2 separate regions of the Homo sapiens genome follow, and region 2 is linked to region 1. The links come from fine-mapping of genetic effects on plasma protein levels. Region 1 holds a variant in brackets. A gene starts in the other region. All regions are shown on their forward strands.

Evidence for each region. PIP is the chance, under the fine-mapping model, that this variant and not a neighbour inherited with it causes the effect. Protein levels are from antibody-based Olink assays in UK Biobank. Linkage for the fine-mapping came from a reference panel and not from the study's own genotypes, which makes the PIPs less certain.
Region 2: CXCL11 starts here. The variant in region 1 is fine-mapped to the plasma level of the CXCL11 protein (UK Biobank, PIP 0.99).

The regions. Positions count from the first base shown.
Region 1 is chr7:99,189,078-99,205,317 of GRCh38, forward strand. KPNA7 (karyopherin subunit alpha 7) reads right to left here. Exons shown (of 11, transcript NM_001145715.3): 3 at 14,029-14,163; 4 at 7,007-7,089; 5 at 5,993-6,261; 6 at 3,942-4,024. Among named protein-coding and RNA genes, the nearest start is that of KPNA7, 11 kb to the right of the region's middle. RefSeq lists a silencer at 1,629-1,923. The variant G/A (reference allele first, on the strand shown) is at 6,285.
Region 2 is chr4:76,025,341-76,039,644 of GRCh38, forward strand. CXCL11 (C-X-C motif chemokine ligand 11) reads right to left here and starts at 10,730. Exons shown (of 4, transcript NM_005409.5): 1 at 10,587-10,730; 2 at 9,876-10,002; 3 at 9,707-9,779; 4 at 8,342-9,476. The coding sequence starts at 10,647. The coding sequence ends at 9,453. It also overlaps a transcript of ART3 not described here and the pseudogene RPL36P8.

The DNA.
Region 1 (16,240 bases):
GATGGAGGTTTCCTTTGTCTTTCAAAATGTCCTTTCCCATTTGATTGATGACCTAATTTCATTTTTCACTGACAACAAGATCAAGCAGGAGTTACTTGGTCTTCCCACTGGTCTAAAACACTACTGGCATGTCATCCCCAGATTTCTAATCTTCTAATTGAGAATCAGTCTTCCTACTCTGCCTCTGGATCCCATCCCTTTTGGCCTTTTATTATTAGTTTTAGTTTTAGTAGAGACAGGGGTCTTGCTATGTTGCCCAGTCTGGACTTCAACTCCTGGGCTCAAGTGATCTGCCTACCTCCACCTCCCAAAGTGATGACAGGCCTGAGTCACCACACCTGGCCCTTACTTTTTGCCTTTAAAGATTCCGCCCAGAATCATCCCTGCCCCCAAATCACTCCCACCAGTAAGGAAACATACCCTGGGACTGTCAGCCCCTCCCCTTCTGCCCCTTTCAGCCATCATCACACTTCTGTCTTTCAGAGTCTACCCTCAGAGAGGCATCTATATTCACTGTCTACCTCCCAGATTCCCAATTGTTGGGGTTTTTTGTTTGTTTGTTGAGACAGGGTCTCACTCTGTTGCCCAGGCTGCAGTGCAGTGCCGTGATCATAGCTCACTACAGCCTCAACCTCCCAGGCCCAAGTGATCCTCCTACTTCTGCCTCCTGAGTAGCTGTGGCTAGACATGCTTTTTGTAGAGGAAAGTCTTGCTATGTTGCCCAGGCTGGTCTCAAACTCCTGGGCTCAAGGGATCCTCCTGCCTCGGCCTCCCAAAATGCTGGGATTACAGACATAAGCGCCTGGCCTCCAGTTGTTCTTCAGGCCATTCTAGTCATGTTTCTAACCCTTCTTTGGGGTTAGGGATGGGAATCAGCTCCTTCCAAGTCACCAAACACAGCAGCTGCTTCTTGGTCCTAAAGTTACTGTCCCTCTCAGCTGTGGTTAGTAGTCAGCCCTTTCTTTTTGAAGGAGCTCTCGGCTGGGCGTGGTGGCTCACACCTGTAACCCCAACACTTTGGGAGGCCGAGGCAGGTGGATCATGAGGTCAGGGGTTCAAGACCAGCCTGGCCAAGATGGTGAAACCCCGTCTCTACTAAAAACACAAAAATTAGCCAGGCGGGGTGGCATGTGCCTGTAATCCCAGCTACTCGGGAGGCTGAAGCAGAAGAATCGCTTGAACCCAGGAGGCGGAGGTTGCAGTGAGCTGAGATTGCACCACTGCACTCCAGCCTGGTGACAGAGCAAGACTCTGTCTCAAAAAAAAAAAAAAGCAGAAAAAAAAGCAGAAAAAAAAGAAAGAGCTCTTCTTGGCAACTGTGACACCAAACCTGGTTTTCTATGGCCAAATTAGCTGTTTCTACTTAGTCTTTTTGGCAGGCTCTGCCTGAATTTAGAACCTTAGAGCCCACAGGACTGGGTCTCAGGCTCTCCTCACACTCTAGGTCAGGGGTTGAAAACTTTTTCGGTAAAGGGCCAGATCTTAAACATTTTTAGCCTGTGGCTTCTGTGGCAACAACAACTGTCCTTGTAGACCAGACAGTATGTAAATGAGTGTGGCTGCATGCCAGTAAAACTTTTTTTTTTTTTTTGGGGGGAGACAGGGTCTCACTCCATCACCCAGGCTGGAGTGCAGTGGTGCAATCACAGCTCACTGCAGCCTCAAACTCAAGCGATCCTCTCGCCTTGCCTTCCCAAGTAGCTGGGACTACAGACACGTGCCACCATGCCCAGCTTGATAAAACTATTTACAAAGCAAGCGGCCAGCCAGGTCATGTTTGTGACCCCTGGCCCCAGCTGACCTTGCCTGGCTGGGTGACATATACACATATGTCACCTAGCAAGGTACATCTGTCAATCCGACTCTGCTGCAATGGTGTCTCCAACTCGCCTCAACTTCATGCCTGCAACACAAGCTCCAATTTCTTTTTTTCCTGCACTTTTCCCCTTTCTCTAGGAAGACAATCATCTGAACAATCTAACCTGAAACCTAGGGGCATCCTGGCTTCTTGCTGTCTCCCTTTCACGTCTAGAATGGCTATGTCCCAGACCCACCTGCTTCACCATCTCCCTCTGCTATACAATTTTTTTTTTTTTTTTGAGATGGAGTCTTGCTCTGTCACCAGGCTGGAGTACAGTGGCACAATCTCGGCTCACTGCAACCTCCACCTCCCAGGTTCAAGAGATTCTCCTGCCTCAGCCTCCTGAGTAGCTGGGAGTACAGGTGCGTGCCACCACACCCAGCTAATTTTTGTAATTTTAGGAGACGGGGTTTCACCGTGTTGGCCAGGATGGTCTTGATCTCTTGACCTCGTGATCTGCCCACCTCGGCCTCCCAAAGTGCTACCGCATCCGGCCTCTCTCTGCTATATAATTCTACGGCAGGCAACCAGAAGGGCCTTTCTGAAAGATCAGACCACTCTACTCCCTTGCCTCAAAATCCTCCAAAGCCTCCCTGCTGCTAGCAGGAAGATGTCTAAGCCCTTTTCCTGCTTGCCATCTTAAGTGTTCTCTACTTAAACTCTCTCGGTCATGGCTAGTCTTTTATTGGTTCAACCATGTCAGATTTTTCTCCCATCTTGAAGAGTTTTGAGACAGAGTCTTGCTCTGTTGCCCAGGCTGGGGCACAGTGGCGCAACCTTGGCTCACTGCAACCTTCGCCTCCCAGGTTCAATCAATTCTCCTGCCTCAGCCTCCCAAGTAGCTGGGACTACAGGAACGTGCCACCATGCCTGGCTAGTTTCTGTATTTTTAGTAGAGATAGGATTTCGCCATATTAGTCAGGCTGGTCTCAAACTCCTGACCTCAGGTGATCCACCCGCCTCAGCTTCCCAAATTGTTGGGATTACAGGTGTGAGCCACGGTTCCCAGATGAAGGTTTTGAACATAGTCCTCTGGCTGCTCTTCATTTTTGTTTGAGGCAAATCGAGAACCCAGTTCCTAAACCAGAAGTCCTCTTCAATCAATAACCACAAATCAACCAACCTTGACTCTAAGCCTCAAAAGAAGAGCCTGTTCCCCATGAACAGAACTGGTGAGACATTAACCCATTTATGCCAGAGGTTGCAAATTTTTTTGTGTGAAAAATCAGACCTTGGTAATGACCATGAGCAGTAGGATATAAATAACTCCCACAGGCTTAGTGTTCCAATAATGGAACACCAGGCATATATGCTAAACTGTGACCCTAGAATGGAGATTTCAGTCATCTATTTTGCAAGATGGCAAGCTTGTAGGCCTCTTCCAATGCCGCAAAGAGAAGGATCAGTGCTACTGGCCCCTAAAGACAGAGCTGAGTCAATCTTTACCTAAAATGATACTCAGTCCTAAGCCTTGCTATTATTAGTTTATTTAGAGACAGAGTCTCAACCTGTCACCCAGGCTGGAGTGCAGTGGTGTGATCTTGGCTCTCTGCAGCCTCCCTCTCCTGGGCTCAAGCAATCCTTCCACCTCAGCCTCCTGAGTAGCTGAGACTACAGGTGTACGCTACCATGCTCAGCTAATTTTTTTATTTTTAGAAGCATGGTCTCACTATGTTGCCCAGGCTGGTTTTGAACTCTTGGTGTCAAGTGATCCTTCTGTCTTGGCCTAGCAAGCACTGGAATCACAGACATGAGCCACCATGCCCAGTCTTGAGCCTTGTTTATGAGGTTCTAAGAGGCCAGGCAGCAGCCACATGATCTAGCATTGGATTTGGAAGTATGTCCCAATTTCCCAACATTAGAATTTGTTACCTAACGAGGTTCTCTCTCATTTAAAGACATCCACTTGGCCTGGTACTGTGGCTCACGTCCATAATCCCAGAACTTTGAGAGGTAGGAGGATTGCTTGAAGCCAGGAGTTCAAGACCAGCCTGGGCAGAATGGTGAGGCTCCATCTCTATTAAGATTATTTTAAAATTTTAATTTAAAAAAAAAAAAAGAGAAAGAAAAAGACACTTACCGGCAGGGTGGGTGAAATCAAGGCTAGGAGATGTGGGATGGCATTGCTTGTGATGACGTTATCTCTGAACTCTGGGCCATCACCTACAAATAGAGCAGAATGTGACATTTAGAGAGAGAACAAAGACAATCCTGAAGTGGGTGACTAATTTTTTAAGAGTGTGCAAAGGGCAAGAGACAAAAACTCATTCCCGGGTTTAGCAAGTAGGTAGTAGAGCCACGTACTAAATTCTGGAAGTCTGGCATGGCTGGTGGGTGGACAGTCCTGATGTAACAGGCAGGCATCACACAGCAGCAACTGCTAGAAGCAGAGCCAGCCAACTCAGCCAAGGTGGGCTGTTGGCATCTCACAGCATGGTTCTCAGGAAGACGAAGGCTGGTCCAGACCAAGTTGTCTTCCCAGAAGACCTTGGCACAGGGCAGTAACTTCCAATGCAACTCAGAACAAAGTCTGGGGATCTGCAGGTGCTGGTGACCAGCCATCAGCTACCTTAGCTAGGATAACAATTTTAGACCCTAGAAGTCTATTTGTATTTGTCAACCATCAAAGGCAAGTCATCACATTGTACCATCCAGTCTTGCCTACTTTACTGCACCAAGCAAAATGAGAGACAACTTCTCTAATAGGCACTTTTTCCTCCTGCAGCCTTTTATTTTTTTTTTTTGGCGGGGGAGGGGGATACAGGATCTCACTCTATTGCCCTGGCTGGAGTGCAGTGGTGCAATCATAGCTCACTGCAGCCTCGACCTCCAGAACTCAAGCAATTGTCCCACCGTAGCCTCCTGAGTAGCTGGGACTATAGGCATACACCACTATGCCTGGTGAATATTTTTATTTTTTGTAGAGATAAGTTCTCACTACATTGCCCAGGCTGGTCTCAAACTCCTGGGCTCAAGCCATCCTCCCACCTCTGCCTCCTAAAGTGCTGAGATTAAAGGCATGAGTCACTACGCCAAGCCTCTGCAAGCTTTTGTTTTCTTTTAGCAGTTATTTTATATTCTGTTTGCTAATTCCAATATGTGGAGTCCTTGGAGGTCTAATCATACTGTTTCTGCTGACTCAGTCACGGGAGTTATTGCTTCTCTGAACTTGAAAATGCTAATAGTCGGCTGATCTTAATTTGTCAAAATCCTGAGGGACCTAATTGAGTTTTCCCTAGAAAGTCACTGGATTGATGTCAGCCAAGAATCTGGGGGCTTCCGACCCTACAGCACTAATTCACTAGACCATGCAGGAAAGAGCATCGATTGCCACATTCAGAAAGGTAGTCTGAGGATTCCACTTTCAGGGAAGGCTTGTTAGCCCAAACCAAGGAGTTTTTTTTTGTTGTTGTTGTTTTGTTTTTGTTTTTGGCACGTTCCCTTAGCAACTTCCACTGAAGGCAGAGTCCTTCTGGGGTCCCGAGTTATGTAAGGGTCTATCATAAACTCCCACACTGCATAAGCCAAAGACTTGTTCTTGAAGCCACGAAGCCCTGAGGCTGTAGGACCTTAGTGTTGGCAGATGTCTCTAGTTAGCCTGTGGCTTCAGTATACACTGTATCATCCTGTTTCAGCTTCAATATTTGGCCTCTAAACTTGGATTTGAGGGCTTTTGGTGTTTTGAGACAGAATCTCCCTCTGTTGCCCACACTGGAGTACAGTGGCGTTATCTTGGTTCACTGCAACTTCCTCCTCCCAGGTTCAAGCGATTCTCCTGCCTCAGCCTCCCGAGTAGCTGGGACTACAGGGCATGCACCACCATGCCTGGCTAATTTTTGTATATTTAGTAGAGACGGGGTTTCACCATGTTGGCCAGGCTGGTCTTGAACTCCTGACCTCAAGTGATCCGTCCGCCTTGGCCTCCCAACATGCTGGGATTACAGACGTGAGCCACCGTGCCTGGCCTGGCTTTGAGTTTGGAAACAGCTCATTGTACCCTTGCCAGCACTTCTAGGTATTTACATGGCAAAGTGTTCTGGGACATCGAGTATACCCCACCACCCAAAGAAACCTTATAGTATCCCACACACCTGGCCCCGTTTTCTTAGCCCACTAAGGGGAGAGTCTCACCGGCTATATTACCAAGAGCCCACACTGCCTGTTCACACACAGCCACGTTGGAGGAAGACAGGAGCTCAATCAAGGGCTGGATGGCTCCCCCTTCTACCACGGCACGAGTCTGCTCCGAAGTCCCTGAAGCGATGTTGGTCAGGGCCCAGGCAGCCTCAAACTGCAAGCAGGGGTAAAGTGATGACTTCAGGAACTCCACCATCCTGGGAATGAGGCCCGCTTCAATGACCAGTTTCAGAGGGGGGTTCTTTTCCTGGGATAGCATTTTCCTATGCAATGAAAGAGAGGGCAG[G/A]GGAGGGGGAGGTCAAGTGAGAGAGGTATTAAGGACCTCCTTTTAGGCCAGGTGCGGTGGCTCACACCTGTAATCTCAGCACTTTGGGAGACCAAGGCGGGCAGATCACTTGAGGTCGCAAGGTCAGGAGTTCGAGACCAGCCTGGCCAACATGGTGAAACCCCGTCCCATCTCTACTAAGAATATAAAAATTAGCTGGGTGTGGTGGTGCACACCTGTAATCTCAGCTTCTCTGGAGGCTTGAGGCAGGAGAATCACTTGAACCCAGTAGGCGGAGGTTGCAGTGAGCTAAGATCATACCATTGCACTCCAGCCTGGGTGACAGAGTGAGACTCCATCTCAAAAGAGAAAAAAAGAACCTCCTTTTATACATAAGCCACATAGCTGGGCCGGAGCTACTTAAGATCCTAGTGTTCAACCGATAGCATTTTTCGGTATTAAATCAACATTTTCCCCTTTAAGGTGTTATCTACAAGATGAAATTTCTGTAGAGGCCAATGTAAATTAAGCAATTCATCTCTGACAACACATCGAAGCTTTTAAATTGCCCTCAAGGACAGTGTAGAATAGCAATTTCGTCTTTTAGATGGGCTAGCCTTTTCCTGTGTTTTACGGGCATGTTGCCAATGCCAAGAAACCAAATAGGCCACCGGCGCTCCAGCCATCACTGACGCTCATTGCTAACTATGAACCTGCAACAGCAGAAGTCTGTTTGGAGATACCTGGCTGTCTGGGTGGCCTGGAAACATAGGACTGGATCTGAGCTATTCACACCTTTGATTATTTCACCCAGAGTGAGGCTGACCTGCAAGAAGAGACACATTCAGGTCAGACTGTCTGCCAAAATGAGCTGTAAACATCACCTACTCTAGCCATCATCCATCTGATTAAAACAGCCTGGCTTGAACAGGATGTCCCATCTTGCATGCTGTTCTATATTTGGGGAGGGGAGAATATAGTCCACAGATCTCACAGATCTGTGTGTTCCTTCCCATGCTTAGGGGAGAAGTAATTCCTATCATTAGTTGGATCCCAAGAACATTTTTATCCCGTGCAGTAAGAATGTGCTAGTGGATACAAAACAAAATGGCAGACTAAGGACATCCAAAAAATTCTCTCCTCCACATAGGCAAAGAGAAAACTGACAAAAATAGAATCAACTTTTTCAGCACTGTAGAAATTGACCAAAGGCTTGCGGCCAATTGTTTTATTCAAGCCAGGAAGTGTTTATCCAAGAAAGACAGCTGAATCTCAGTAAGTAGCATGAGAGCTTTGTGGCATTTTGACTTGCCCTATTCCCACCCACCCTCAGCTCCATGGTAACCCTGAAAACCAACAGTCCACAATCATTGTGAAAAACCAACAGCCTCCCAACCACCAGAAGAGGCAAAATAGGTAGGTCCTCCTTTGGAGCCTCATTCCCAGAAAATTATTATTTGATCTGTCTGGTCATTCCCTGAAAGATCCCACTTACAGACTATTTTGACTCAGAGCTTAGTCAGTATGAAAAGGCTTTTCCCTAAGAATGTTCATTGAAAACAGAGGAAGTTGTTTAACTTCACAGCTACCTGAGAGGTTGAATAAGAGTTGGGATAAACAACAGGCTAACAAAAAAACTTGAAAGGGAATGTCATGTATAGGGCTATGCATATGCTTAAAAACAACAACAACAACAACAACAACAACAACAAAACTAAGACCCTCAGCTCTTCCCTCTCACTGACTTTGAAGCTCTGTGCAAACAGGAAGTGAAGGCTTACGTCAGAATTGTCAACTGCCTGGCTGAGTGGTGAACGCATGCCCCCAACACAGAGCTTCTTGGCAAAAATTGAGTGTTCTTTTCTTCGTGGTTCGAAGTGTTAAAATAAGTCTCTAATTATTAGTTGACCACTGAGCAAACCAAGCAGACACTGCAGCAGCCACACATCACAAAAAAATACAGATTTTAGATAATTAGCTCAAACTACTAAACGAGCACACCCAGCAACAACAGCAAACCCTGGGGCAATGGAAAATCTGATTTCTAGAGTTGTCACACTATTTTAAATGACTAGTTTTCAACAAAGATTGTGAGACAAGCAAAGAAAGTGTGACACACACATATACATATATATGTGAAAAAAGCAATCAATAGCAATAGTCCCTGAGGAGACCAGATGTTGAACTAGACAAAGATTTTAAATATAGTCAAAGAACTAAACCATGACTAAAGAACTAAAGTGCAACAATGCTGTCACACTAAATAGAGAATATCAGTGAACAGATATCAGTTATTGGAAGGAGCCAGATACAAATTCTGGAATTGGAGAATACAATAACTGAAACAAAAATTCACTAAAGGGGCTTAACAGCAGATTTAAGCAGACATAATAAAGCAGCAGTGAAGCTGAAGATAGGTTAATTGGAATTATCCAGTCTGAGGAAGATAACACACACAAGAGAGACTGAAGATGAAAATTGACAGATCTTTAGAGATCTGTGGGACATCATCAAGGATACCAACAAATGCAGAATAGGAAGGAGAAGAGGGAAAGAGGCAGAAAGTATATTTAAAGAGATAATGGCCAAAGAAATTCCCAAATCCAATAGAATAATTAGTCTACACATCTGAAAAGTTCAATGAGCTCCAAACGGAATAAATCCCAAGATCCAGACATATTATAATCTAACTGTTGAAAGCCAAAACTACAGAATCAAAAACATTGAAACCAGCAAAAGAGAAGCAATTCATGTACAAAGCCTCAATAAGATTAACAGCTGATTTCTTATCAGAAAGCATCAAGGCCAAAAAGCTGAGGTGCAGTGAGCCAAGATTGCAGCATTGCACTCCAGCCTGGGTGATAAGAGTAAAACTCCATCTCAAAAAAAACAACAACAAAAAAACTTTACCAACTTTACAAAAAAAAATTCTCACTCATTCTTAGAGGCTAGTATTACTCTGATACCAAACCAAGGATATTACAAGAAAAGTATAAGCTAATATCCCTTATAACTACTGATGCAAAAATTCAACAAAATAGGAGGAAACCAAATGCCTAAACGTATGAAACATATGGTCAACATATTGGTCATCATGATGAATTAGGATTTAACTCAGGAATTCAGGAGTGGTTTAACATGTGAAAAAAAATCAACATAGTACCCCGTATTAATAAAGGGGGGGGAACCCACATGATCATCTCAATGCAGAAAAAACATTTAATGAAATTCAACATACTTCCATAATAAAAAAAAACACTCAACAAACTGGAATAAAAGGAAACTTCTTCATTCTGATAAAGGCATCTACAAAAAACTCAGAGGTAGCCTCATACTTAATGGTGAAAGTCTAAAAGATTTCCCCCAAGATCAGGAATAAGACAAGGATATTGCTCTTTTCACTTTTATCCAACATGGCATTGGAAGTTCTAGATGCATTAATTAGGCAACAAATAAAGTGCACCCAGATTGGAAAGGAAGAAATAAAACTATTTGCAAGTGACTTAATCTTATATGTAGAAAATCCTAAGGAATTTACACCAAAAGCCTAGAGCTAATAAAATTCAGCTAGGTTGCAGAATTGATATACAAAAATTAATTGTATCTTTACATGCTAGCAGTGATCAAAAATCAAAATAAAGCAATTTAATTTACAACATAAAAAGAATAAAATGCTTAGTAATAAATTTATTGAAAGAAATCCAAGAGTTATATGCTGCAAACTGAAAAAAAAAAAAAAAAAAAAAAAGGACTGAAATGAAAAGGTATCCCATGTTCATGGACTGGAAGACTTAACATTGTTAAGATGGCAATACTCCAACCTTATAAATTCAATGACTCCATTCTATAGGTTCAATGCAATCTCCATGAAAATCGGAGCTGCCCTTATTGTAGAAATTGACAATCTGATTTTAAAATTCATATGGAAATACAAAGGGTCCAGAATAGCCAAAATTATATTGAAAAAAAGAACAAAGCTGGAAGACTCACTTCCCAATTTCGAAACTTACCACAAAGCTACAGTAATCAAACCTTTGTTTGATGACAAAGATAAACGTATAGATCAATGGAAGAGAACTGAGAGTCCACAAATGAACCCTCACATTCACGGTCAATTGATTTTTTTGACAAAGGTACCAAGACAATTCAATGGGTAGAAAATAGTCTCAAATAACTGTGCTGGTACAACTATGTATCACATGCAAAAGCACAAAGTTGGACTCCCATTCTCACCATTTACAAAAATTAACTCCAAACGGCTCAAAGGCCTAAAAGTAAGAGCTAAAATTATGAACTCTTAGAAAGAAATATAGGCACAAATCTTTGTGACCTTAGATTAGGCAATGAATTTTTAGATATGATACCTAAAACACAAACAACCAAGAAAATAAACTAGACTTCTTCAAAATTAAAAAATTTTATGCTTCCAAGGATACTATCAAGAAAGTGAAAAGACAACCCACAGAACAGAATATATTTGCAAGTCATATCTGCTAAGGTTTAATATCTAGAATATATAAAGAATTCTTACAACTCAATAAAAAATAATTTATTTGACTTAAAAATGGACAAAGGGCTGGAATTTTTTTTTTGGTGGGGGGACACAGTCTCGCTCTCTTACTCAGGCTGGAGTGCAGTGGCACAATCTCAGCTCACTGCTCAAGCTATTCTCCTGCTTCAGCCTTCCTAATAGCTGGGACTACAGGTGCATGCCACCACACCCAGCTAATTTTTATGTTTTTAGTAGAGACAGGGTTTCACCATGTTGGCCAGGATGGTCTTGAACTCCTGACCTCAAGTGATCCATCCGCCTCAGCCTCCTAATATGCTGGGATTATAGGCATGAGCCATCAGGCCTGGCTAATTTTCGTATTTTTCGTAGAGACGCGGTTTCACCATGTTGGCCAGGCTGGTCTCGAACTCCTCAGCTCAAGTGATCCTCCTGCCTCAGCCTCCCAATGTGTTGGGATTACAGGCATGAGCCACCATGCCCGGCATCTGCTTTTGTCATCACATTGCTCTTCTTATAAGAATCATCGAATGCCAGGCCCACCCAGATAATCCAGTATCACCTCTCTATCTCAAAATCCTTAATTTAATCACATATGCTACATCCCTTTCCTCATAGAGTAATATTCACAGGTTTGGGGACTAGAAGATGCAGACACTTGGGGTGCCACGATACAGCCTACCACAAAGAGTGAAACAGGCTTAGTTCATAACCCAGTTATTCTCAGTGGAACTGAAGACACCCTTCCACACAAAAACTTGTACACAGATGTTAATAACAGCATTCATCATAACAACCAAAAAGTGGAAACAACCCAAAGTCCCCCAATTAATAAATAAACAAGGCCAGACACGGTGGCTCACACCTGTAATCCCAGCACTTTAGGAGGCCAAGGCAGGCAAATTGCTTGAGGTCAGGAGTTCGAGACCAGCCTGAACAACATGGTGAAACCCCATCTCTACTAAAATATAAAATTAGCAGGTGATGCATGCCTGTAATCCTAGCTACTCGGGAGGCTGAGGCAGGAGAATGGCTTGATCCCGGGAGACAAAAGTTGCAGTGAGCCGAGATTGTGCCATTGCATTCCAGCCTGGGTGACAGAGTGAGACTCCATCTTATAAACAAATAAATGGATAAACAAAATGTGGTCTCTCCATATAACAGATTATCATTCTGCCCAAAAGGAATGAAGTATTGATATATGCTACAACATGGATGAACTTTGAAAACATAAAAGCTCAACACAAAAGCTCACATGTTTATATGATTGCATTTCTAGGGAATGTCTAGAACAGGTCATTCCAGAGAGGCAGAAAGTAGACTAGTGTTTGCAGAGACGGTGGGGGATGAGGAATGGGGAGTGACTCCTGAATGACTGGAGTTTCTATTTGAGGTGATGAATAGGTTCTGGAATTAGCTAGTGGCAATGGTTGCACAACTTTGTGACTATGCTAGAAACCACTGATTAGGCACTTAAAGAGTGAATTTTGATGTGAATTATACCTTCATTTCTTTAAAAAATATGCTAATATGCCAAGCACAGTGGCTCATGCCTGTAAACCCAGCACTTCGGGAGGCTGAGGCAGACAGATCACAAGGTCAGGAGGTTGAGACCATTCGGGCTAACATGGTAAAAAACCGTCTCTACTAAAAATACAAAAAATTAGTTGGGTGTGGTGGTGGGCACCTGTAGTCCTAGCTACTCGGGAGGCTGAGGCAGAAGAATTGCTTGAACCCAGGAGGCGGAAGTTGCGGTGAGCCAAGATCGTGCCACTGCACTCCAGCCTGGGCGACAGAGTGAGACTCTGTCTCAAAAAAAAAAAGCTAATATGGGACCAAAAGAAAAACAACTTTTTGGGGTTGTTTGTTGGAGTGAGATGGAGTCTCACTCTGTCACCCATGGGTTGAAGTGCAGTGGCACGATCTTGACTTAGTGCCACCTCTGCCTCCCAGGTTCAAGCAACTCTCCTGCTCAGCCTCCTGAGTAGCTGGGATTACAGGCACCCACTACCACACCCGGCTAATTTTTGTATTCTTAGTAGAGATGGGGTTTCACCATGTTGGCCAGGCTGGTCTCGAACTCCTGACCTCAGGTGATCCACCCACCTCGGCCTCCCAAAGTGCTAGGACTACAGGTGTGAACCACTGTGCTTGGCCTTTTTTCCCTTTTGTTTTATACCATCCTTGGATGGGGGGATTCTAGGGACTGCTCCAAACAAATGAAGCTAACTAGAGATATAGTTTGGACTCCTATGGCAACTCAGAATGACTGTACACATTTCATTGATGAATGGGAACACATCATTGGACCCAATTTGACAAAAATGGAACCAGTCTCTGCCCTCTATGAGACCTAAACCAAGCAGGGTAAAAAGGGTGCATGTGGGTAGTTAAGGTAGGACAGACAGTGGTGTACCCCAAAAGAATATAGAGACACCATTATTGAGGTGCTAAGAAGGAAAACTTCCTGGTCAAGGCATTCGGTATTCACAGAAACCGGACTAACCTTGAAGTCAACCCAGGATCTGCATTTAATAAGGTTGGGGTAGATGGAGAAGGGAAGACAGGACAGAAGTCAAAGTGTTAGGAAAGACCTCACCCATCCAGGGACTAGATGCCTCTACTGAGAAATAACCTTCACCAACCCTCATTTCCTCGGTTTTCAGGCTTAGGGATAGCAAGTAAATTTTCAATTAGAAATATCACCTTTTTGGCCAGGTACAGGGGCTCACACCTGTAATCCCAGCACTTTGGGAGTCTGAGACAGGCAGGTCACCTGAGTCCAGGGGTTCGAGACCCTCCTGGTAAACATGGCAAAATCCTGTCTCTATAAAAAAATAAAAAATTCACCAGGCATGATGGTGAGTGCCTGTAGTCCCACATACTCTGGAAGCTGAGGCAGGAGGTTCGCTTGAACCCAGGGAGATTAGGGCTGCAATGAGCTCTGATTGTGCCACAGCACTCTATCCTGGGTGACAGAGTGAGACCTGTCTCAAAAAATAAAAATAAAAAGTATAATAAAAATCCTCTCCATCCCCCACTAGAATCTAGATTCCACAGACTCAGAGCCATAGGAGTAATGGCCATTAGCCTTTTGACAAAGGCAGTTTAGCTCAAACCATAATCTCTTCACTCCTTTCTTTAAAAGCCCAAAACGAGAGTTTGCAAGTTCTGAATCTATTAAATATTATCCAGCCAGAGACACTTGCTAAGAACATATTTTGCCCAAGACTACTCTAAACACTACATACTGACCGCCACCCCTTTGGCTGTTTTTTCAGAAGGTGTGTCAGGGCAGAAGCTCGTGATATTCCTTCTCTTTAAGGTCTGTTCATCTTTCTTGGCCTTTCGGAGCTCCAGACTGACCGCCATCCTCTGCTGTCGCCTCAGCTAGTGAGGAAAAGAAATTGGAGCATTTAGAACCAGGAGTGGGGATGTCACATTTAGTCTGTCAAACATGTTTCAAAGCATCCAATTTCATTTTTACAGATACAATAGGCTGGAAAAGTTCAGATCACACAGTTAGTAAATCATCTCAGCTCTGTTTACCTCCTCTTCTGTTTTCTGCTATACCACTTCTAGAAAATAATTTGATCTTCCCTCCAAAATAAAGCAAGACCATGCACAACCTTGACAGGTCAGGATTCTCAGCTATAAAAACACCCCAGCAAAGCATCCCATTGCCCTAAGTCTGAACACATCTTCATTGATGCTGATGATTTCCTGAAGAATATGGCTGCTTCCTGAATGTACCCAGGCCTTTTCGGTGGTGGCTAGGATAGATGGTGTTGGGGACGATTAGGGGACTGCCCATGTCCTAGATGCCCTGATCATTTCCACTATATTTATATATATATTTATATATTTGTTTTCTTTTTGAGATGGAGTCTCACTCTGTCACCCAGGCTGGAGGGCAGTGGCATGATCTCAGCCCACTACAACCTCTGCCTCTGGGGTTCAAGCCATTCTTGTGCCTCAGCCTCCCAAGTAGCTGGGATTACAGGCATGTGTCACCACACTCGGCTATGTTTTATATTTTTAGTAGAGATGGGGTTTCTCCATGTTGGCCAGGCTGCTCTTGAATTCCTAGGCTCAAGTGATCTACCTGCCTCAGTCTCCCAAAGTGCTGAGAATACAGGCTGAGCAACTGTGCATGGCCCATTTCCACTATTAATGAAACCTGTCTATAAGCCATTAAAGCCTTCATCCCCAAGTCTACATACTGAGGGAAATCAAAATTAAAACAAGGCTGGGCATGGTATCTCGTGCCTATAATCCCAGCACTTTGGGAGGTCAAGGTGGGAGGATCATTGAGGCCAGGAATTCTAGACCAGCCTGGACAACATAGCAAGACCCTGTTTCTACCAAAAAATTAGCTGGGCATGGTAGCATGCTCCTGTAGTCCCAGCTACTTGGGAGTCTGAGGTGGGAGGATCCCTTGAGCCAGGGAGGTCTAGGCTGCAGTGAGCTACGATTGTACCACTGCACTCCAGCCTGGGCAATAGAGCAAGACCCTGCCTCTACAAATCTCTCTCTCTCTCAATCTCTCTCTCCCCTCCCCGATCTTATGTCAGTTAATGACTCAAACTTTATAGTATTAAGAATCCTGAGGAAATGACCTAACCTTTCTAAATAGCTGAGTTTGGGCTGAAGACATTTCAGGAACAATTATAAAGAAGTCACCATGTATTAGATACTTTTGGTTCTTTAAGCTACTTAATTCTTGCTTGAAAATGGGTCATCAGCCGGGCACCGTGGCTCCCACCTGCAATCTCAGCACTTTGGGACACCAAGGCAGGAGGATTGCTTGAGCTCAGGAGTTCAAGACCAGCCCGGCCAACATAGTGAGACCCTGTCTCTACAAAGAAATAAAAAATTAGCCAGGCATGGTGCTACTTGGGAGGCTGAGGTGGGAGGATCACTTGAGCCTGGGAGGCAGAGGCTGCAGTGAACTATGATCGTGCCACTGCACTCCAGCCTGGATGACAGAGCAAGACCGTGTATCAAATAATAATAAAAGGAAAAAATTTAAAAGGGTCATGGTGGCATTATATGGCAAGGTAGGAACACATTTGGGAATCATTGAGCCCATCATACTGTTGCCCCATCGCTAGGCAGTTCCTGCCTGTAAAAACTTTTGTACCTTTCTCTCTTCTCTTTGGCAGGCCCTTCCTGTTGCTGTGAAGACTCAATTCCTTCGTTCTCACTGATTTCCTTTAATTTTCAGTGGTCCTAGAAGCCGGACAGCTTCATTGTTGGAATAGGTTACTGTAAGAGTGATTTGGTTCCTGGGCCAGGCACGGTGGCTCATGCCTGTAATCCCAGCACTTTGGGAGGCCGAGGCAGGGGGATCATGAGGTCAGAAGATCGAGACCATCCTGGCCAACATGTTGAAACCCCATCTCTACCAAAATGCAAAAAAAAAAATTAGCCGGGCATGGTGGTACACACCATGGTAGGCTGAGGC
Region 2 (14,304 bases), not on the chromosome of region 1:
GGTGACAGTTTTATTTTAGTTGGTATCTAAGTTGTCAGCTAAAATGTCTCTATATAGAAGACAATGTAAAAAGGAGATACTTGATAAATGGACTAAAAATCTGTTATTAGGGATAAAATATTTGATTTTTACTAAACATTGTATTACATTAACTGTGTGCCAGGCATTGTTTGAACTGCTTTGTGACTATTGACCATATTGACTCATTTTATTCTTATAATAACATCTACCTCTGACCCAGCCACTCTTCTATTTTTTTCACCATAGATTATTTTTGCCTGTTCTAGAACTTCATATAAATGGAACCACTTGAGTATATACTCTTTTGTGCAAGACATCTTTTGCTCAGTATAATGTTTCTTAGATTCATCGATGTAGTTGCATGAATTAGTAATTTGTTTCTCTTTATTGATGGGTAGTAATCCATTGCACAAACATATCAGTTTGTTTCTTGTTGATGGACACCTTGACTGTGTTCAGATTTTAGTTATTATATATAAAGCTGCTACGAAGATTTTTTTATAATTTTTTTTCTGGGCATATGCTTTCATTTTGTGGGGTACATATGTAGCAGTGGAACATGATCACTTACTTTTTTTATTTAAAAAACGTAAGTGATCACGTCACTCTTCTGCTTAAGACCTCAAACAACTTCCAGTTAGAATAAAATCCAAATTTCTAATTAAGCTGCTTTACTAAATCCTCTATGATCTGGCTGCTACCTATTTGTCCAACCTCATATCATTCCTTCTCAACCACTACAATCCAGTCAGTGGCCCATACACTGGCAATTTTCTCCATCTGGTATGCTTTTCCTCCTGTTCGTCACATAGAGAGTTCCTTCTGGACATTTAAATTTTAGCTGGCTTGTACCTTCTCTTGTCACACAATCTGAAGCAGACATGACTTTAATTCTCTACATGGCATTTCATACTATCTGATATTCAGTTCATTCATTTTTTTTAATTAGTGTAATGTCTGTTTCTCCATGCTAAAATGTATGCCCCAGGAGAACAGGGAACTAAAATGCATATGAGAGGCATTTGGTAAATATTGGATAGAAGGATGGTTGAATGAATCTTTACAGACTTTAAGTGACAGCATACCAGGATTGTATTTCAAGAAGTATTTCCATTTGTTCATCAGATTTCTGAATCTGGACATGAGTATTATTGTTTTCCTTAGCTTTAAGAACCAAGTTTAATTTAAGAAGACTATAATTTCCCCAGAAGTTAGTTTAGATTTAAGTAGGTAAAATCAATACAGATATTCTCAGCTAGCTATAGGACAGACTCTTCATTCCGGAACTCTGGTAAATATAGAGTGGTACCCCTAAAAGCTTCTTAGTTATTTGCTGTTTTTTTATCTGTAATTAAGCATTGAATGAATGAATGCAGGAATGCAAATATCCTCAGTGCATATCATGTATATGGCCATGGATGGTGTTAGAAGAAGGAGGAGAAGTAGGCTTGTTCTCATTATTTTCTGTGCACTTTGTGTAGGGAACTAAGCTAATCTCAGGGAATACTAGAAGGGTTGAGATCCAATATTTATCCTTGATGGGTTTACATTCTAATTGGGAAGACCAGAAACTATGAAACAATAAATATCAATAAGAGAAACTTTATGGGCCGGGCAAGGTGGCTCATGCCTGTAATCCCAGCACTTTGGGAGGCCCAGGCGGGTGGATCACCTTAGGTCAGGAGTTCTAGAACAGCCTGGCCAACATCGTGAAACCCTGTCTCTACTAAAAATACAAAAAATTGGCTGGGCGTGGTGGTGGGCGACTGTAATCCCAGCTACACAGGAGGCTGAGGCAGGAGAATCACTTGAACCCTGGAGACGGAGGTTGCAGTGAGCCGAGATCACGCCATTGCACTCTAGCCTGGGCAACAAGAGCGAAACTCCGTTTCAAAAAAAAGAAAAGAAAAAAAGAAACTTTATGATCAGTACCAAATGAGTGGTATAGAAAATAAATAATGTGGAGGTTCATAGGAGACTGTACTCATTAAGGTCAGAAGTTTTCAGAAGATCCTTCAGAAAAAAAGACCTCAGATGAGCCATAAAGTGTGAATGTTACTTAAGTAAGTGGCCAGGAGAGGAAAGCTTGTGCAATTACAGATAAATGTCATCAAAAAATGGTAAAGGGGGAAGCCAACCAACCAGTCAGAAAAATTGGTAGACTCATAGGGGTGATAATGCCGTGTTAGGATTCTATAAAATCTGGTCCTCAGTTTTTCCAGTCCAGAAATTCTCATTTTTTCCTAATCATCCAGGGTAAGCATATTCTCAGAGAGTTAACTCTGCTAACCAAATCTCAGATAGACTAAGATGAAAATTAAAAGACAGTGTATCCATTACAATCCATTACATTTGATGACAGATAAATGTCATCAAAAAATGGTAAAGGGGGAAGCCAACCAACCAGTCAGGAAGATTGGTAGACTCATAGGGGTGATAATGCCGTGTTAGGATTCTATAAAATCTGGTCCTCAGTTTTTCCAGTCCAGAAATTCTCATTTTTTCCTAATCATCCAGGGTAAGCATATTCTCAGAGAGTTAACTCTGCTAACCAAATCTCAGATAGACTAAGATGAAAATTAAAAGACAGTGTATCCATTTACAATGAGAACCTTTTCAGTGACTAGGATGATTGGTTTTGGTATCCAAGTCACCCCTTTCCCAAGATCAGATTGCCTAGGAAATTGAATTAGTATCAGAACAGTACCTGGTGAGCAGAGTCAAACGAAGGACCCTTCTCTTCTTGTTTTAAATGAGGGTTCTGCTCAGGGTAGAAACCTGACAAATGTGATCAACATGGAAAATCATTTAGAAAAAAAAAATCAAACTTTTAGAGACAGTAGCAAGCCCACTATTACTTATTTCACCCAAAGCCAAGACTGCATGTGTCATTTGAATAAAAATCTAAATGATAACTCTTTTTATATATTTCTCTCAATTTTTGCAACGTTTATGGTATAATCACGTTCCTAGAATTCACTGATCTGAGTATAATTTTGAAAGAAAATGAAAGTTAAGGAAGTATCCCGCTTTAGTTTCCGTTTCAGTCGCTATTGATTTATCTTTAAGCCTGTGATTATGGCATCAGGCCAAAAAAGACAACAATGAAAAAAGGAACAGTCTGCCCTGACAAACTAATGAGCACAGACGAAGGCAAAAATGCTTTCCCGGAAACTGTTATGCTTAGAAGAAATTTTCTAAAAAGTGAGCAGGAGGACATCAGTGATTTCTGTGGACTGGGAATCCCCTCAGCTGGTGCAGAATATGCCTTGGAAAGTATGGGAGAGCAGGGCAAAGCTTCCCCTTCACAGTTTTCACTCTGAGCTCTCAAAAGATTCCCCGAGCTCACAGTGTTTGGTAATACTGGTTACATACTTTTCAATTACCCATGTGTCTCATCCTTCATAGCCAGCCTAAGCAGAGGGCAAACTGAGTGCTGGCAAAGTGGGTGGTAGACCCTAACAATCATCATGGCATTGGAGGAGGCAGAGGCTCAGAATAGCTTCTGTTTGGATACATTTTAGGCTATGCAGTGTTTCTGAACTCGCGCACTTGAGAGGACTTTTACAAATATGGCAGATTTCATCATTTGGAGGAAGAGACAAAATTGGAGGACATTATAATAAAGTAAATGTGTTTGGGGGAAGTATGGTGCATTTCTTTCTCCTTCCCATAAATAAGATATTTCAACAAAATAAATTAGAATTTTGTGATACTTTGTTCCATTTTTAATCAAAATCTTTAGAAAATGTCTAGTTTTAATTTTAATTGATTCATCATTGGTTGTCTTTTCTTTTGAGAAGAGGAATCTTGAGATATGATATAGTTCAGTAGTGCCTGTTATTCCATATTTTAGATTATCATTCAGTTTTCTTCAACTTCTTATTGACAGTTTGTCTTTGTGAACAATTTGAAGAAGAATGCTAAGTCAGGATTTATTATATAGAGTCTATAATTCACGTTAGGGCATTTCCAATTTAGTAGCAGTTTATTGAGCAGCACTAAGGAACTATGAATACATCTGTACTTATGGTGCCAGGATTTTTAGGACGTATTCTTCTTAGGTACTTAAGTGAAACTATGGTTTCAGTGTTATGTGATAATCTCAGACTTGCTCAATTTCATTACCAGTGTCTGGTTAATAAAATTTGCAGACAAGGCAAGAAGAAGCAACTAAAATTGCCTCATTCACCCCTTCTCCAAAAAAAACCCTAACAGTTTTTTTTGTGTGTGTACTACTTATAATCCACAGAATGTGCTGACCATATCATAAAGATTTATAATTGTTGGCTATGAAAATCTTTTCAGAAATAGATACAAAGAGGTATATTAATTCCATGTGGGCATATTAGGTCCTGTACTCAGTAGCCAAAAATAATTAAGTATAATCTTTCCTTTTCTAATAGCATTATCCAAAACTACTCCATTTGTTTGAAAGCTCTTCTTGGCTAATTAGAGGAAACAGTCCTGAAATTTTAAGTCACTGTGAGTGTTTGGCATCTTAAGTTCCATGTATTTAAAATCGAATCTGCAGTTTTTTCTGCTAAACTACATCTTCCCCCTCATATCCCTATTTCTGTTAGTGACAGAACTATTCTTTCAGACCTCAGAAGTTCAGCCTTTTTTCCTTGTCTCTTCTCTGCTTTAAATTCAGACTCAAATCCTTAACATGTTCTTTGTTTCTTTTTTGCATCTTCAACTTTCTTTTTCTGAGATGGAGTCTCGCTCTATGTAGCCCAGGCTGGAGTGCAATGACGCGATCTCGGCTCACTGCAACCTCCACCTCCCGGGTTCAAGCGATTCTCCTGCCTCAGCCTCCTGAGTAGCTGGGATTACAGGCATGCACCACCATGCCCAGCTAATTTTTTGTATCTTTGGTAGAGACGGGGTTTCACCATGTTGGCCAGGCTGGTCTTGAACTGCTGACCTCGTGATCCACCCGCCTCGGCCTCCCAAAGTGCTGGGATTACAGGCGTGAGCCACCGTGTCTGGCCTCAGCTTCAACTTTCACATCCAATCTATCACTGTCTTGATTATTTTTGTACAGTGTACTTGTCATTATATTTCTACTCTTACCAATACCACCTTAGTGTAGCCCTTCTTCTTTTTATGATAGTAAAATACAAATAACATAAAATTTACCATTTTAACCATTTAAAAGAGTACAATTCAGTGGAGTTAAGTACTTTCACAGTGCTGTGAAGCCATCACCATAATTTAGTTCCAGAACATTTTCATCACCCAGAAACTCCATACTCATTAAGTAGTTACTCCTCATTAACACCTCCCCCAAACCCCAGTCAGCTAATTTGCTTTTTGTTTTTATGGTTTTGCCTACTCTAGATATTTCCTATAAAATGGAATCATACAATATGTGGTCCCTTGTGTCTGGCTTTTTTTACTTAGCATATTTTCAAGGTTCATCCATGTTGTAGCATGTATCAGTACTTCATTCCTTTTTATGGCCGAATAATCTATTGTGTGTGTATACCACATTTTATCCATTCACTTGTTGATGGATATTTGGGTTGTTTCTGCTTTCTGGCTGTTGTGTATAATGCTGCTATGAACATTTGTGTACCAGTTTTTGTTTAAAGAGCTGTTTCAGTTCTTTTGGGTATATACCTAGGAATGGAATTGCTGGATTATATAGTAATATATAATTACTATAATTATGTTTAACTTATTGCAGAGCCAGCCCCATTACTTTTCACACCAGTGTTTCCCAAAGTGTGGGACACTACCATGTACATTGATAATAACGTTTAGTATCAGTGAATTATTCTCTTCTTAACTTCAATCCCTCTGATTAATTAAATCAGGGGGAATATTAGTATTTTTTCATTGTATTTTGTTTTATCATTACATTTTATTTCCATGGCATGTATTACCGATTTTACATGTACAGTAGTGAAAGTTTACTTTTCATGTAAATGTACGTAAAATAAAGTGGTATACAGAGTTTCTAAAAATATAATGAAGATCAAACAGAGAAATGTTAAAAAAAAATTGTAAAGATGATATGAGAATGCCTTGAAGTTTTGGAAATACAGACCTGAGATATTGCAGCTATTGCAGCAAATCCCAACTGATTTTCCTCCTCCACTCTTTCCCACTTTCAATCAACCATTCATGCAATTCCCAGAATATTTTCCAATGACTTTGATAGGGTCACTCTCTTCTTCACAAACATTTATTGAATCCCCATTTTGTACAGAGTAAAATTCAAGGTTATTTACAGTTTCATGTCCTTCATCCTTCCAACCAAACGAATCTAATTATGATTCCTAAAAATCACTTTATACTTCCTACTACTGTACATTCCCTTGTGTCATTCCTCTGCTGTAAATTCCTTTTCCCTTAGTTTATATTGCCATTCAATAGGGTCTGATATGCACCAGAAACTGTACTGTTGGCCTGGGCTACAGCAGCTTTCTTTTACACTTATGAGAGAGCAGATATTAGGCACAGGAATAATTCATTAATTACAATTGCAGTAAGTAGTATGATGGAAAAATAGAGAGTGTTATGGAAATAAATAAATAGGACACCTAATCTAGTTAAAGCTGAAGTGGTGGTTTCAAAGGCTTCTTGGAGAAAAAGTCATTTAAGCTGAGACCTAAGCAATTAGTAGGCATTAGCTTAGTGAAGAAATGGGCAGAGAGAATAGTATGTGCAAAGGTACCAAGGTGGGGAGGATCTTGGCTCAAATATGTTAATTATTAATATTTCATATATTTATTTTGCTATGAAGAACTTTAGGTGTATGTTTTCTTCTCAGTAATAATGTACTGGCCTATAATATTTAATATACTTCTTACAAATACCAATTTATCATGCAGCCTTAACTCTGTGAATTTTTTTTTTTTTTGAGGCAGGCTTTTGCCCAGGCTGGAGTGCAGTGGTGTGATCACAGCTGACTGCAGCCTCAACCTCCCAGACCCAAGTGATCCATCCACCTCAGCTTCCCAAGTAGCTGAGGTTACAGGCATGTGCCACCATACCCAGCTAATTTTCCTATTTTTTATAGAGATGAATTTTCGCTATGTTGCCCAAGCTAGTCTTGAACTCCTGGGCTTAAGCCATTCACCTATGTTGGTCTCCCAAAGTGCTCAGATTATAGGTGTGAGCCACCATGCCCAGCTGACTATGTGAATTTTTATTTTTAAAGAGACTTAAAAAAAAAATCACTGTAAGTAGTCAAAGATTAGATTCAAGTCTTTTTTTTTTTTTTTTTTTTGAGGTGCAGTTTCACTCTTGTTGCCCAAGCTGGAATGCAATGGCATGATCTCAGCTCACTGCAACCTCTGCCTCCCGGGTTCAAGCGATTCTCCTGCCTCAGCTTCCTGAGTAGCTGGGATTACAGGCACGTGCCAGCAGCCTCGGCTAATTTTTTGCATTTTAAGTAGAAATGGGGTTTCACCATGTTAGCCATGCTGGTCTTGAACTCCTGACCTCAGGTGATCCGCCCGCTTCGGCCTCCCAAAGTGCTGGGATTACAGATGTGAGCCATCGCACCCAGCCAGATTCAGGTCTTAAAACTATCCAGGGAATTTATATGGAAGTCCCATCTCTATATAGATATTTATATAGATTTATATAACAATTTATTATAAATCTATATTGTATCTATAACCTATATAATAATGCAATATAGATATATCTGATTATAATCCTATAATAAATATTTTTATTTTTCAAATGTATGGGTGCCTATATAGAGAGTACTGCTATCAGTCAAGGCTTTTGGTTACATGCAGAGAAACCAACTCTGGCTATCTTAAGGAGAAAAAGAATTTAGTTGGAGGTTGAAGAATCCACAGGACAATGGAGAATAAGTCTTGGAAAATGGACAAAGACCTAAGGGAACTAGGTGATAGGAAGGACTAGCCAGAGTCATGCTACAGGAACACACATTGGGAAGACACTACTGTAAGACTTTCATTGTTTCTCCTGCTGCTGCCAGGCTTGAAATAATTTTCTTACTAATAGTATCTTTGTGATGCCAGCTGGAGTTCAAAGTCTAGGGTAGAAACAGCATGGCTGAGTCCTTGTTGTGGCTACAGGAGAGGATCTCCTGTCTTTGGCTTCTCTCTTTTGGCCTCCCACCAACACTCACATAAGGGATTTTCTCCAAGTAAGAAGGGGGTTTGGACTATCAAGACCCCCCAAGGCCGACAAAAGAAACAACTGTCTTTCCCACCTACCCATTAAAATATATTTCTAAACAGTTTTTCATGATGACGGATAGGTGTATGTTTCTGAAATATAAGGCAAAATTGTTAAAGGCATCTCAAATGTCCTGGAAAGTATATAGATCTTTTTTTAAAAAAGAAAGGTTGTGGTAGTTTATTAGAGAAAAAAATGACTTTGATTCTTTAAACTAGTCTTGAGTATACCTAAATTTTACAGTATATAGGCATGAACAAAGAAATTGATTAGATTATGTATTTTTCTAAGAGACAGAATTACAAAAAGTAAAAGTGATTGCTAGGTATACATTTGCTTATTTTTCAACATTTTTCTTTGGTAGACAAAAACATTTTGTATTTCAGATGTGTCCAAGATATTGCTATCATTTATACAAACGGATCAAAACAAAAAGTACAGTAAACACACATATCCTAATTGCTTCAAAACATCTCAATGAATAAAAGTTGAAAAACATCAAATTAAGACTGGTGCTACTAATTTGGTTATGAAATATGTGCACTTTTGCCAGTATCCCATAGCGTATAATTTTTTTCATAGTACATTTTATGAATTACATTTAATGAATTGGTTATAAAACAAACCAAATGATGCATAAGAATGTCTCCCTACATATTGATGTGCTACATGATGTTTGGGGAAAGAAGTGTGTATTTGCATGAAAAAATGTTTGAGGAATGTTTTACGACACATAGATGCTTTTGACTTATAAGGGCTTGACTCCAGTAATAATGTCAATGTCTCCACCGTAACCACAGATAGTAATATAGCATAAAGATCAATACAGACAGATGACTTCTAGAGACAGAAATGTTCTCATAGTCACAACAGAATAGTTGTAAGCATCAAATCTAGAAGGTTCTCTAGCCTAGAAATGCATGAATGTATAATGCAACAAGTAAGAACGTGAAAGCACTTTGTAAACTCCGATGGTAACCAGCCTTTCTTAAGGTAGCTTTTCCTAGAAATCCATTTAATTGTTGGACTCCTTTGGGCAGTGGAATTCTGATTGTCATTCATTCAGGAAGACTGTATTTCTGTTTTTGGTCCTTTCACCCACCTTTCATCCTTCACATAACTGTACAAAAGTTGAAAGTCACAAAACCATAGAAAAGTCTCAGTTTCCTACTGTAGAATTCTTGTCATTTCAGTAGTCACAGTTAAACTTGTTCTAGGTTTTTCAGATGCTCTTTTCCAGGACTTCATATGTTTTGATATTTTTAAAAATTCTTTCTTTCAACTTTCTGGAATAAGAAAACAAGAGTTTTATTTACTTGGGCTGTTCTTGTTTCCCCCAGGACATCTAAAAACATGTAGTAAGAAGGGGAAGCTGTTACAACCAAGGACCCCTTAACAGAATATTTCACACAGGATCATAGCAGAATCTTTCTGTAGTTGTCCACATTATTTTCTTTTTCAAAAGATCTGTCTTGGATAAAACAGATTATAACATGGGAGTAATTTGGTAACTTACTTTGATTATAAGCCTTGCTTGCTTCGATTTGGGATTTAGGCATCGTTGTCCTTTATTTTCTTTCAGGGTAATACTGTTAAAAGAACATACAAGAGTCTTAAAGTTTAGATGCAAATACATAAACAAAAAAGCCTGCACCATTGTCATCTTCAGCAAGTTCATTACTTACATCACTTCTATTTTGTCACAGTTGTTACTTGGGTACATTATGGAGGCTTTCTCAATATCTGCCACTTTCACTGCTTTTACCCCAGGGCCTATGCAAAGACAGCGTCCTCTTTTGAACATGGGGAAGCCTAGAATAGATCATAGCATTAGTTAGTAATGCATCTGATTGCAACAGATGGCTGTGGTTTATAGCTGGTGGTGAACGTGAGCAGAATTTTCATTAAGGGTAAAGATAGTAATTTGTCAAATAGCACTTAACACAACTGTTACTGGGAAAAGTTAAGTAAGATGTTGATTATTTTCTCATTAAATTAGTAAGCAAATCGCTAACAAATGGGAAGCATGAAGGAAGTTTATTGGAGGTGAAGCTTGTTTTGCCCCCTTGATTTTATCCTCAAATATTTTCCCAGGAAGCTTGTTAACATGATCGCTATATAAAATCTTCTTAACAGACATTTAAAACTGTTGCTAAAGGCTTTTGCCAGATATTCTAGCCAAATCAAAAATTCCATGAAGTTCATAATTTCTAGTTTCAATAATCATCTCTAGTATCTTAAACATGTCCACCATTTCTGTGCTAAAGCTGTAGTAACTTCTAATCTGTGAGATTAAATAAAACTTTATCATGTCTTTTAGGATAAAAGTGGAAGAAAAGACATTTGAAACATTAGAAAAGGAACTTATAGGTTGAGAAATAAAAATTACTGCATACCTTGAACAACTGTAGCACACAATATCACAGCCAAGGCTATAGCCATGCCCTTCACACTCATGTTTGTTTTTTGCTGTTGCTGCTGGTGCTGCTGCTGCTACTTCAGCTTTGCTGCTCTTCTTGGAAGGAGTAGAAATGCTGAACATGAAAGGAAATTGATAATTGGCATATATAGAGCATTTTATACACCAGCAATCCTTTTATGGCACAGGAATTTCCCTCTTTGAGTCATGCACCTTTCCTGCTTCCAAGAGTTTCTGTTTTGTTCTCTTCTAAATGTTACTGTCCCTTCCTATTTGCAGTAGTGTTGAAAGTGATAAGAATGTGAAAGCACTGTGAAAACCCAGATGGTAACCAGCCTTCTTAAGGTAGCTTTTCCTAGAAATCCATTTAATTGTCGGACTACTTTGGGCAGCGGAATTCTGATTGTCATTCATTCAGGAAGACTGTGTTTCTGTTTTTGGTCCTTTCACCCACCCTTCATCCTTCACATATCTATACAAAATAATATTCTGAAAAGCTTTTTTTTATTATCTCACTTTTGCTTTTCAGTCCAAACTCTTATAATAGATAAGGCCTATATTATTTGACACCAGATGACCTTTATTCAATTTCATATTTTTACCTGTAAATGAGTGCCTAAAGAAGTTTCCCTGTGTTTCTGTATTTATGTCCATATTGTTTTGCATTTTCAACAATTTTTACTTTATATATTTTATTTTGTTTTGCTTTATTTTATTTTTAAATTTAATTTAATTTTATTACTTTATTTTATATTTATTTTATTCTGCAAAGCTTTCATTATAGGCAGATGGCAGGGGGCTCAGTCCTTCTTGGCAGCTGCTTTCCTCATGGCAGCCAGGACGTTGCTCAGCTCCTCCTGCCTTCTCTTGGTGCAGATGTTTGTCCCTACCCTTTTCTTGATGAATTTGAGGGCCTGTTTGACCTTGGAGACCTTCAGTAACTCCATGCCACGCCACTCGTTAGGGGTGAAGCCACACACCTCTGGGATCATGTCCCACACAAATTTAGTGAGTTTGGTCAGGCGCCCACAGTGGCTGTGCCTGGGCTTGCTCACATTCTTGGTCACCTTGTGGCCCTTGTTGAGGCCCACAGCTATAGGGTAGTGCAGTGTCATGGCTGCTGCCCTCCAATGGTGGCCATGGTGGAAAGCTACTTTATATATATTTTAGCACTGTTACTTAGTACATGAAGTTGTATGAGTTGTATTAGGGATCATAAAAAAAAGTGATCCTCTTTGCTCATGTGATAGTTTTACCTCTGAGATTCTACTTTGATGTAATTCCTATTTTTTTGTCTTTATCTTTTCCTCTTAAGCTTCCTAAATCTTTGTTTTAAGTGTGTCACTTGTAGATGTTTAAGAAAATCATATCAAAGGAGCTTTCTAATGGGTAAGCTTAATAAAATATATTTACTGTATAACTGGTAATCTGTAATTTTTAAAATGCTTCCTTGCTGATTCTTTATGTTTTCTTTGATTTCTTTCTAACTTTAAATATATTTTATTTAACTTTTTGAAGCCATTTTTGTTTTTTTTAATGAGATGGGTCTCACTCTGTCACCATTCTGGAGTCGAGTGGCACAATCATAGCTCACTGCAGCCATGAACTCCAGGCCTCAAGCAATCCTCCTGCCTTGGTCTCCCAAAGTGCTAGGATTACTGGGATGAGCCACGGTGCTTGGCCTTCCTTAAGTAATTTGAAAGGAATACATTGTTTTACATTTTGATATTAATTCTTAAAATTCTTTAAAAAGATTTTTACCTGAATTTTTCTAATTATTTACATCAACCATCAATAATATTTTTTTAGCTCCTGTCTTTGTAACATGAGAAAATCACTGTAACTTTCTTTCAAGAATTTTCTCCTATTTCCTAGTTTTACCAATAAAAGTTGGTATAATCGGGGAATTTATAGCCAGTTTATTACTTTTAGATTATTATTTTATCTTATTCAACTTCTTTTTTTGAGAATTATCATTTGCATTTTATCTTGAAATTATATATTTATTTAGATATAATCCTGCATTTAAATTCTTTAACAACCATGACTAGTCTTTAAAACCTTTGAAAGTCTTTACAGTAGTCCCCCATTAAATGAGAAATTCTAGAAATAATTCATAAGTTTTAAATTGTGCACTTTTCTGAGTAGCATGATGAAATCTCACATCATCTTGCTCCATCACTTCATCCCATCACATAGACATTTTATCATTTCACAGCATCACTAGAAGAGTGAGTATAGTACAATAAGATATTTGAAGAGAGAGAGACTACACAGTCACTTAACTTTTATTACAGAATATTGTTGTAATTATTCTATATATTAATGTTGATGCTCTTACTGTGGCTAATTTATAAATCAAACTTTTTTATAGGTATATATGTACAGGAAAAAATACAATATATACAGGGCTCAGTACTATCTGCAGTTTCAGGCACTCATTGGGGGTCTTGGAACATATCCCCCAAGGATAAGGTGAGGGGGCTACTGTATTTTAATTAATTTCCAAGTAGCTGGAATATTCTTTCCTTCTTTTCCATTAATTCATTTAACATATGTAAAGAAAGACTAATTTTCCCTCAGGAATATGGGTAAAGTAAAAGGAATGTGTTCTTGGAGCTCATAAATCCTTATCTGTTATTATTTTTTAATGTTGCTTTTCATTTTCTCAGCATTAGAAACACAGTAGAGCATAGTTGTTAATAGGGAAGGCTCTAGAGTCAGCCTGTGTTCAAATCCACCCTTGATTATTTATTTATTTATTTATTTATTTATTTATTTATTTATCTTTGAGATGGATTCTTGCTCTGTAGCCCAGGCTGGAGTGCAGTGGTGTGATCTCGACTCACCACAGCCTCTGCCTCCTGGATTCAAGTGATTCGCCTGCCTCAGCCTCCCAAGTAGCTGGGATTACAGGTGCGTGCCTCCATGCCTGGCTAATTTTTATAGTTTTAGTAGAGATGGTGTTTAGCCATGTTGGCCAAGCTGGTCTTGAACTCCTAACCTCAGGTGATCCTGCCGCCTTGGCCTCCCAAAGTGCTGGGATTACAGGCGTGAGCCACTGTGCCCAGCCCACATTCAGTTATTTATGAACAAGTTACCTCAACTTTTTGAGGCTATTTTCTCATCTATAGACTGGGGATAATAATAGTACTTTTTTTTTTTTTTGAGATGGAGTCTCTCTGTGCCACCCAGGCTGGAGTGCAGTGGCATGATCTCGGCTTACTGCAACCTCCGCCTCCTGGGTTCAAGCGATTTTCTTGCCTCAGCCTCCCAAGTAGCTGGGATTACAGGCATGTGTTACCACGCCCAGCCAATTTTTGTATTTTTAGTAGAGATGGGGTTTTACCATGTTGGCCAGGCTGGTCTCAGACCCCTTTTTCATAGGGCTGTTATAAACTAGGTATTAAAAGAGGTAATGCATATTAATCATTTAGAAAAATATGTAGCACTCAAAATGTATTAACTGCTATTATTATTATCAGTGTCCTTTCCTGAATTGGCATACCACATCTAGCTTGTTTTCAGCTGTTTTTCAGCATTAACACAAACACAACCACTTAATAAAAGATGAGTTGACATTGTTATAGCATATAAAAATATTTTAAATTATAATAACCATGAATATAAAAATAGCATACTAATCATAAAAATCACTTACAGAAAGTGCATGAATGCAATAGCATAGTTCAAAT